3 linked regions of the Homo sapiens genome follow. The protein of the gene in region 3 purifies or fractionates together with the protein of the main gene of each other region. This does not show direct contact. Each region holds a gene or a part of one and is shown on either strand. Other genes may lie near its edges. The genes, in order: TRAPPC10, TRAPPC6B and RUFY4.

Evidence for each region.
Region 1: the proteins of RUFY4 (region 3) and TRAPPC10 purify together in Homo sapiens (affinity purification with mass spectrometry; one large-scale study listed by BioGRID and IntAct). This does not show direct contact.
Region 2: the proteins of RUFY4 (region 3) and TRAPPC6B purify together in Homo sapiens (affinity purification with mass spectrometry; one large-scale study listed by BioGRID and IntAct). This does not show direct contact.

Annotation. Positions count from the first base shown.
Region 1 is NC_000021.9:44,099,275-44,102,928, reverse strand, and holds part of TRAPPC10 (trafficking protein particle complex subunit 10), read right to left. Parts: exon of another isoform or gene 2,863-3,654; intron 152-2,862; coding exon 1-151. UniProt on the Homo sapiens protein: Specific subunit of the TRAPP (transport protein particle) II complex, a highly conserved vesicle tethering complex that functions in late Golgi trafficking as a membrane tether.
Region 2 is NC_000014.9:39,163,737-39,167,390, forward strand, and holds part of TRAPPC6B (trafficking protein particle complex subunit 6B), read right to left. Parts: intron 1-3,654. UniProt on the Homo sapiens protein: Component of a transport protein particle (TRAPP) complex that may function in specific stages of inter-organelle traffic.
Region 3 is NC_000002.12:218,088,581-218,091,150, reverse strand, and holds the end of RUFY4 (RUN and FYVE domain-containing protein 4), read right to left. Parts: intron 1,900-2,570; coding exon 1,789-1,899; coding exon of another isoform or gene 1,785-1,788; exon of another isoform or gene 1,666-1,784; coding exon of another isoform or gene 1,662-1,665; exon of another isoform or gene 1,623-1,661; coding exon of another isoform or gene 1,589-1,622; exon of another isoform or gene 1,465-1,588; coding exon of another isoform or gene 1,314-1,464; exon of another isoform or gene 1,200-1,313; coding exon 1,097-1,199; 3' UTR 567-1,096; downstream 1-566. UniProt on the Homo sapiens protein: ARL8 effector that promotes the coupling of endolysosomes to dynein-dynactin for retrograde transport along microtubules. Acts by binding both GTP-bound ARL8 and dynein-dynactin.

The sequences.
Region 1 (3,654 bases), on a different chromosome or scaffold from region 3:
TTGAACAGCCTGACGTCGGGCAGGGGGAGATACCCGGCGAAGAGCGGCATCACTTCCATGTGGACCCTGTGAGTGGCCCGAGCAGCCACTGGCATGGAGATGACACCGCAGCTTTTCCCACACACTGCCCAGTTGCTACTGTTGTCGACAACTGAAACGAGAGGAAGCGATGTGTCATCCAGGACGGGCCTTCCAGTACTCAGGCGAGAGTCACGGCCGTCGTTACCCAATCCTCTCACCCAACGCTGTCTGACAAAACACTGCGGACACAGAGCCCAGTGCCTTGTAGCTGCGCCTGAAGATAAAGCCATGCACTTTCACGGTGGCAACCCCTATTTCATTGAGTCCAATTTCAATTAGTTCTGGATTAGAATGAATTATGCTGGACGTGTACAGAAAACTGCATTTTTCCTGTGAGGTTAATAAATGATTTAATTTTGTTTTCAAATTTTTGTGTCATCTTCCACAGTATGGTGACTTTGGCAGTTAATGGGTTCTGTCTGGTAAGTGGCAGTATCCAAGACCACTGGGTCTGAAGCCAACTCTGCCACTCAGAAGAGCACCCCAAGGCCTCCAGGCTCAATGACCGCTGTATAGTGCTGAGACCACCACCAGCCTCACAGAGCTGCTTTTTAAGGATGGAAAGAGAATACGTATGAGGGAACTACAAAAAGTTCATGCAAAAATGGAATCCAAAGATGAAAACAGAAAATATAAGCTTTATTTCTCAACATAAGCCCCACCAAGGTCAAGACATGTTTGTAAGCAATGATGCCATTGCTTACGATGCCATTTAGTCCATCCCTGAAGAACTGGGAGGCCTGAGAATTTAGCCATGTCAACGCAGTCTTTCTCTACATTATTAGCTGAATAAAAATGGGTGCCTTTTAAAGACTTCTTAAGATCAGGAAACCAAAATCAGTCAGAAGGAGCCGAATCAGGTCCACAAGGTGGATGCCTCATGATTTCCCATAGAAACCCTCACGAAGTTGGGCTTGTTAGAGGAATGAGCAGGAGCTTTGTCGTGGTGGAGGAGGACTCTCTGGTGAAGCTTCCCCAGGGGTTTTTCTACCAAAGCTCTTGCTATCTTCCTCAAAACAATCTCATAATACACAGACGCTGCTGTCCTTTGACTCTCCAGAAAGTCAACAAGCAAAATGCCTTGAGTATCCCAAAAACCTGTTGCTGTGGCCTCTGCTCTTGACCAGTCTGCTTCTGCTTTGGTGGGGCCACCCCACCTCTTGGTAGCCATTGCCGTGTCTGCTTTGTCTTCAGGATGGTACTGGGAAGGCCACACTGCATCTCCTGTTATGGTTCTTTGAGTAAATGCTTCAGGATCTTGATCCCGTGTGTTTGAAGTTTCCATGGGAAGCTCTGCTCTGGTCGGCCACGGACCTGGGTACTAGGGTTTTGGCACCCACTGAGTGGAACGCTTGCTCACCCTTCAGGCGTAATTGCATAAGCTGAACCAGTTCAGATGTCTGCGGTGTTGGCTGTCATTTCTGCTGTTGTCAGTTCCCTCCAATTAGGGCATGAACAAGGTGAATTTTTTCCTTGAAAATGGATGTGGATGGTCTGCTTGCTATGGCCTTAATCTTCAGCATCATCTCGTCCCTTCTTAAAACAAGATATCCATTTGCAAACTACTAATTCTTTGGGGCACTGTCCAAAGAATTTCATAAACTTTTCATAAAGCATCAATGATTTCACCATTCTTCCACCCAAGCTTCACCATAAATTTGATGTTGGTTGTTTTGTTGTTGTTGTTGTTGTTGAGGCGGAGTTTTGCTCGTTGCCCAGGCTGGAGTGCAGTGGCGCAATTTTGGCTCACTGCAACCTCCGCCTCCTGGGTTCAGGCAATTCTCCTGCCTCAGCCTCCCAAGTAGCTGGGCTTATAGGCGCCTGCCACCACGCCCAGCTAATTTTTGTATTCTTAGTAGAGATGGGGTTTCGCCATATTAGCCAGGCTGATCTTGAACTCCTGACCTCAGGTGATCCGCCTGCCTCAGCCCCCCAAAGTGCTGGGATTACAGGCGTGAGCCACTGCACCCGGCCAATGTTGGTTCTTGATTTAATTTTAGCAGAATTCATGTTGCTCTGATAGGGGCTCTTTTAAAACTGATGTCTTATCCTTCTTAGTGCCTCAAACTAGATCCTGCTCAGTGAGTAGGAGCTTATTTTGGTGCAAAAAGTGTTGAAATCCATGCATAGTTTTTTCATAACGTATCTTCCATGATTTTTTTGAAGACCCCTTGTATGTAAAGCACTTAGTACCACTCCTGGGACATGGTAGTGTCTTAATATATGGCAGGTGTTATTATTAACATTAATTATTAAAACACAACCATCATGTAATTCAATGCAATTCAAACACTTAAGTGATCATTCACTGGGACTAGCCCTGGAGATATGAAAGTAAGCAAGACAGGATCCTTGCCATCCAGTAGCAGTAGACCTGGTAAAGAGGTCACAGCTTCCCATCATGAGGATACCGAGCAACCGCCCAGGGGGAGTGAGTGACCAGAAGGCCACGAGCAGCAGAGAAGGGCTCAGGGAGGTGGACATCCTGTAGTTGGGGATGGGGGACCTTTGAGGACAGGAGCTACTACAGGACATGCAGAGGCCCTAGGAGTGTCAGGAGGAAGGCAAAGGAGTGACAGTTCTCAGAGTGTGGCTCTCAGGGCACCCGCAAGCTCATAGCTTTCACACTGCTGCCTTTCTACGCTGCTGACCTCGCGCTGCTGGGGCAACCACAATGGCATGAACTCGGGCCAGACTGCGCAGTCATGTCACTCATGTTCTTTACTACCATGAACTCACAGCAAAAAAACAAAAAAAAAAATGCCACGCTTCACAAAGCAGTCAAAAGTGCTCATTTTATTAAATTCAGCTCCTGAGTAGACTTTTTTTTAATTGTGAAATGTTTATAGACTCACAAGAAGTTGTAAAAGTAGTAGAGGGGTCACATACCTTCATCACCAGCTTCACCCAACTGTGCCATCTCGTGTAACACAGGAAGCTGACACTGGTACCATACAGTGACCCAGGCTGCAGACCCCACTGGATTTCACTACAGAGTGAACCAGGCTGCAGACCCCACTGGATTTCAATACAGATAGAACCAGGCTGCAGACCCCACTGGATTTCACTACAGAGTGGACCAGGCTGCAGACCCCACTGGATTTCAATACAGCTAGAACCAGGCTGCAGACCCCACTGGATTTCACTACAGAGTGGACCAGGCTGCAGACCCCACTGGATTTCAATACAGATAGAACCAGGCTGCAGACCACACTGGATTTCACTACAGAGTGGACCAGGCTGCAGACCCCACTGGATTTCAATACAGATAGAACCAGGCTGCAGACCCCACTGGATTTCACTACAGAGTGAACCAGGCTGCAGACCCCACTGGATTTCAGCAGCTTTCGCAGGCATTCTTTGGGTCTAATTCTATGGCATTTGTCACATGTGTAGATTCGTGTAACAACCACAGCGGCCCTGGCCCAGAACTCTCCATTACCACAGAGGACGGCCTCCTGCTGCCTCCCACTGCTCCGTGGAACACTGACCCGCTCTCCTTCTGAGGCTGGCATTTTGAGGATGTCATTTAGAAATGGAATCACACAGTACACCTCCTTATAGGACTGGCGT
Region 2 (3,654 bases), on a different chromosome or scaffold from region 3:
AGGAACCATGCACTCTGCTTATGGTGCTGTGACTATTAAATCTGCGTTTCTAGTACAGACTTTATTGGGCATAGACATCTAGTGGTCCCACAGGACCTTCGAAGTATGCATATTCAAATGATATTCATTTTATTAATGTCTTCAGCCTGCTCTGCCTCCAAAATTTCCTAACTTCATTAATGGCACCACCATTCACCTAGTTACTCCAACCAGAAAACTTCCATTTTCTTCACCCCTGTGCTCCCAACCCCCCATACACTGTAGTCCGGTGGAGCCTATCTTTTACAAGCTTTTCAAAATTCATCGTCTCTCTCTACCCTTACTTCTTAAGTAAAGCCTTATCATTTCTCTCCTGGTTTTTAGCTATAGCTTTCCAACTGGTCTTGTCTCATTTTTTCCTACTTTGTGTCATCTTCTATATTTCTGGTAGTGTAACTTCTACTAAAGTAAATTTCTAAAAAAAATCATGTTATTCTCGGCCGGGCATGATGGCTCACGCCTCCTAGCATTTTGGGAGGCCGAGGCAGGCGGATTACCTGAGGTCAGGAGTTCGAGACCAGCTTTACCGACACGGAAAAACCCCATCTCTACTAAAAACATAAAACATTAGCTGGGCATGGTGGCGCATGCCTGTAATCCCAGCTACTCGGGAGGCTGAGGCAGGAGAATTGCTTGAACCCAGGAGGCGGAGGTTGCAGTGAGCCAAGGTCACCCCATTGCATTCCAGCCTGGGCAATAACAGTGAAACTCTGTCTAAAAAAAAAATCATGTTATTCTCTACTGGAATTTCAGCACCTGCTCCCCTTTCTTCAAAATAAAGTCCAGGCCTGATGTAGTGACTCATGCCTGTAAATCCCAGTACATTGGGAGGCCAAGGATTGCTTGAGCTTAGGAGTTCGAGGGCAGCCTGGGCAACATAGTGAAACCTCATCTTTAAAAAAATTACAAAAATTAGGTGAACATGGTGGCATGCACCTATAGTCCCAGCTACTTGGGAGGCTGAGGTAGGAGGATGGCTTGAGTGCAGGAGGCAGAGGTTTCAGTGAGCCAATATCTAGCCACTGCACTCTAGACCGGGCAACAGAGTGAGATCCTGTCTCAAAACAAACCAACAAACAAACAAAAAATAAAGTCCAAACTCCTTAGCATGGCATCATGGTATGTCCTTTCCTTAAAGACTCCTGGCTAGTTAACCAAATTCACAAACATCCTTCCCTTTTACCACTCTGAAATTTCTGCAGCAACTCCAGAGTGCCATGTTCTCTTCTGTCTCCCTGCCTTTTTATGTGCTATTCCCTAGACTTCACATTCTTTTTTTTTTTTTTTTGAGACGGAGTCTCGCTCAGTTGCCCAGGCTGGAGTGTAGTGGCGTGATCTCGGCTCACTGCAAGCTCTGCCTCCCAGGTTCACGCCATTCTCCTGCCTCAGCCTCCTGAGTAGCTGGGACTACAGGCGACCGCCACCACGCCCGGCTAATTTTTTGTATTTTTAGTAGAGATGGGGTTTCACCATGTTAGCCAGGACGGTCTCGATCTCCTGACCTTGTGATCCGCCCGCCTCGGCCTCCCAAAGTGCTGGGTTACAAGCGTGAGCCACCGCGCCTGGCATTCACATTCTTTAAATTCTGCTCAAGTATTACATTCTCCCAGATGGCTTCCCTGAAACTTCCTTAGGCCCTATGCTGTCGTAAAATTCTGTACATACATCTATTACTGTACGTATCACTATCTTCAGTTTTTCTGCTATTCTCCACACTTCTCAAACATGCTTAGGATGAGGCCAGGCGCAGTGCTCATGCCTATAATCCCAGCACCGTAGGAGGCTGAGGCAGGAGGGTCACTTGAGACTAGGAGTCTGAGACCAGCCTGAGCAACATAGCAAGACTCTGTTTCTACAAAAAAAAATTTTTTTAATTAGCTGGACATGGTAGCATGCCCATAGCCCTAGCTATTCGAGAGGCTGATGTGGGAGGATCACTTAAGCCCAGGAGGTCAAGGCTGCAGTGAGCCAAAGTCCCAACACTGCATTTCAGCCTGCATGACAGAGCAAGACATTGTCTCTCTCTCTCTCTCTCTGTTTTTTTTTGAGACTGAGTCTTGCTCTGTCACCCAGGTTGGAGTGCAGTGACACAATCTCGGCTCAATGCAACCTCCGCCTCCTGGGTTCAAGTGATTCTTCTGCCTCAGCCTCCCGAGTAGCTGGGACTACATGCGTGCACCACCACACCCAGCTATTTTTTGTATTTTTAGTAGAGACGGAGTTTCACCATGTTGGCCAGGCTGGCCTGGAACTCCTGTCCTTGTGACCTGCCTGCCTTGGCCTCCCAAAGTGCTAGGATTACAGGCCTGAGCCACCGTGTCCAGCCTCTTTTTTTTTTTATTTAAATAGAGACACTGTTTCACTATGTTGCCCAGGTTGGTCTCCAACTCCTGGGCTCAAGTAATTCTCCCACCTCAGCCTTCCAAAGTGCTGGGATTTACAGGTGTGAGCCACCACACTAACCCAGAGACTTGTCTCTTAAAAAAAAAAAAAACAAAAAAACAAGTTCAGCTAGAATAAGTGTCTGTAAATCATGATGCTCTTTTTGGAATAATCTGCTCTCTGTAGAATCACCTAGGAACATATTTATTAGCAGGAACTATTGAAACCACCTTTGCAAAGATTGTAACAGTAAGAAAATCATGACTGTAAAAGAGATCTCACCTAATCAACTCCATCTTGCCTTTAACCTCCAAGCTGCCCTTGGTCATTTCTGGATGCAGCCCAAGCTAACTTTGGGAGAAATTTAGTTTATAGTGTAAGCTTAAAGCAAGAATGATAATAGCCCTTCCCGAAACTAAATCACCTTTGCAAAACTAATGAAAGACTATAAGGTTAGGCTTATGAGAGGGGTCTGAATTCTGCTAAAATGTAGGTAGTTAAATGATAATCAGACATTATTCTGGAAGTCACAGATTTGTAACTTCCCCAATTACTCCTGTAAATAATATCACTATTGTAGAACCTAAAAAAGGCCTTTTGAGATGTCTTTTCAGACTTTTGCATTTCGGATGACTCCAACTGGTCCTCTGGCCCCCACCTCTGTAACTGCATCCCCAACCAACCAGGAGCACCCATTCCCCAGCCCCCAGCCTACCAAACTATCCTTGATAAACCCTAGACTCTGCATGTTTGGGGAGGCTGATTTGAGCAATAATAAAACTCTGCTCTCCCATTTAGCAGCTCTACATAAACTCCTTATTGCAATTCTCCTGTCTTGATAGATCAGCTCTACCTGGGCAGTGGGGAAGAAGAACCCACTGGGCAGTTACAATATGCTTATATGCAGACACTTTCAAATCCTATGATCACATGAGCTTTTGAATTAAGCCCTACTACTTAATTTTGCTACTTGTTCATGCACTTTTGAGTAGGCACCAAATTTTTAAGAAAAATTCAACTTGAGAACATTTTATCCATTAGCCTTTCAAAATCCATTCACCATAAATTGAGAAATGCCCAATTAGTCCATTTTAAGAGAATTCCTCTTTAAGCATAGTTTGAAAAACCTTGATTTGGAGGGTTAGAACACTGTTTCTTTCTTTTATCTCACCTCAAGTCTTATGGAAGTTTATTTTGCTATACTGAAAATTTATAAAACTTTATTTCATTTAA
Region 3 (2,570 bases):
TCACACCACTGCACTCCAGCCTGGGTGACAGAGCGAGACTCCGTCTCAAAAAAAAAAGTTAAACATAATGACTCACCCATGTCATTCCTAGGAATTTACCTAAGAGAAACAAGTATATGTCTACACAAGAGAAACCTAAGAGAAACAAGTGTATGTCAGCAGATACTCATGTGAATCTTATTTGTAATAGCCCCAGGTTGGAAACAACTCAGATGTCCATCCACAGGTGAATGTAGAGACAAACTGTGGCATATCCATGCGGTGGAATACCACTCGACAATAAAATATGTTCTTGATATATGTAGCAACAGACACGAATCTCAACATCATTAAGTTCAGCAGAAGAAGGCAGGCAATAAAGAGGGCATACTGTATGATTTCACTTACATAAAATTCTAGAAAATGCACATTAGCCTGTGGTGACTGAAAGCAGATCAGTGTTTGCCTAGGTATGGAGGGAAGGGAAGGGAGGGAGACCACAAAGGGGCACAAGGAAACTTTGGGGTGGATAGATATGTTTATGAAGACGGTTTCATTGGTGTTTGTTAAAATCAAAACTCATCAAATTGTACACTCTGTGATGTTTATCATATGTCAGTAGTACTTCAATAAACATAAAAAGAAACACAGCAACACAAACACAGATCCCTGAAGCTGACTCCAGACAGGAAGCTGCTGGAGAGTCCAAGATAGTGCAGGCTTCACTTCTCGTGAATCAGGAAAGGTGGGCACCGCTGCTGGGTGAGTGGGGAGTGTGGAGGAGAAATGTCAGGGCTGCTGGGGTCTTATCCACAGTCATGGATTTGCTGAGCCCAGAGGGACTTTAGAGAGGATGGGGCCCAACTCTTAACATTAGAGAAGAAGCCCTGAGCACTGAGAGCTTCGCCAAAGTCACCTGGCTCGTTGTGGTAGTTGCAGGGCTGGAACCACTCCCCACACCCTACTCTGCCCACAGAAGTGCTGGTGCCTTAGATCTTCAGTGTCTAGAATGAGGACTGGACAAACAAGAGGGCTGGGAAGAGCTACGGGCAGGGAGTGGATTGAGTGGGATGGGCAGGCAGGTGGGAGGCCAGTCATGGGCTGGTCTTGGTCTTGGTCAGGTGACCTGGGCTTCTCTTCCCTGGGCGCAGGGTGGGCAGCAGCGGTCTCTCTTCTTGTAATCCATGGAGCAAGCATGGCAGAGCAGGCCTCCACAGAGCCTGGAAGGCAGAGGCAGGAAAGCCTGGGGCGGCCTCTGCAGCTGGCACTTCCCCAAGTGGGCGCTGAGGTCATGGAGTTCCAGCATCTTCAGGTCCACCTGAGACATCTGTTTCTCATCTCCCAGTGGAATGCCCTTGGTTTGTCTCAGGAGGTCTCCCCTCTCCTGAAGGGTGTCCTGATGCCCGACCCCTCCAGAGCCTCCACCTCCACATGGCAGCTTCTCCTGGTGGCTCACTTTCCTCTCTCCCAAGGCTGGTCCTAGCACTGTGCTCACAGAGGAAGGAGGGGGAGCAGCTTACGCTGTACAGATGCTCCCTTCCAGATGAGAGGCCCATTTCTCAATCGGCTCTTGGAGGGGGACCCAATCCCACTCCCCGGACCCCATTCCTTATCTGATCCTTCTGCTCTTCTCCTTTATGGCTCTGCTTAGTGTTGGAAGCCAGATGTGGTAGAATGAGTAGTCAGCTGTAAGTGGCCTTTTATAAACACCCAGTTCCTGTGTCCCTCCCTTCCCTGGGGTGGGTGGGGGCTGTCAGCTGGTGGAAACTGGGCTGTCCCAGAGGGAGGATTCTGTGCCCTTCCCTTTACCTGCATGGATACCGCCGAGAAAATCGGCCAAAGATCTTGCTACAGGCCACACAGCACTCGGGAGCCATGGAAGAGAGATGCTGGAGCCTCTGCCACAGGCGGTCCTTCTCTCTGATGGGGGGATGAAGGTGGAGAGACACAGACAGAGACAGAGATCAAAAGATAGAAATGGGAAAAGACCCAGACAGAGAGACAGAGAGGAACAGACGGAATCACACAGAGAGGAAGAGAGAGACAGAGAGGGTGATGGAGGGAATCACATGGACACATACGGAAATAAAAAGAGATTCAGAGACAGGGACAGAAACAAGAGCAGAGACGCAGATAGAGACACAGCAATGGGGAGGGATACAAAGATGGACAGAGAAAGATGGTTACTCAGAGAGAGAGAGAGGGGTGGAGAGAAGGGGAAAGAGGGAGAGAGAGAGAGAGAGGATTGGAGAGAGACAGAGAGTGACATAGAGAAGTTGAGAGATATATAGAGGGAGAGAGACACACACAGAGAAAGAGACACAGAGACAGAGAAAATGGAGACAGAGGAGAAGACACAGATATGGAGACAGATGGAGAGATAGAGAAAGAGACATAGGGGCCAGAGAAAGACGGAGAGAAATGAAGAGACAGTGAGAGACACATGCAAGAGATCAGAATGCAACTGACACCTGGCCTCCTCTTTGCCCAAAATAACCTTGACCCATGATTTAAGGACCCATTATTTAAGCACAAAGGAGTGTTCCCTGATCACAGAGGCCCCTGGGGTTTCTTGCTCCAGACACTTACAG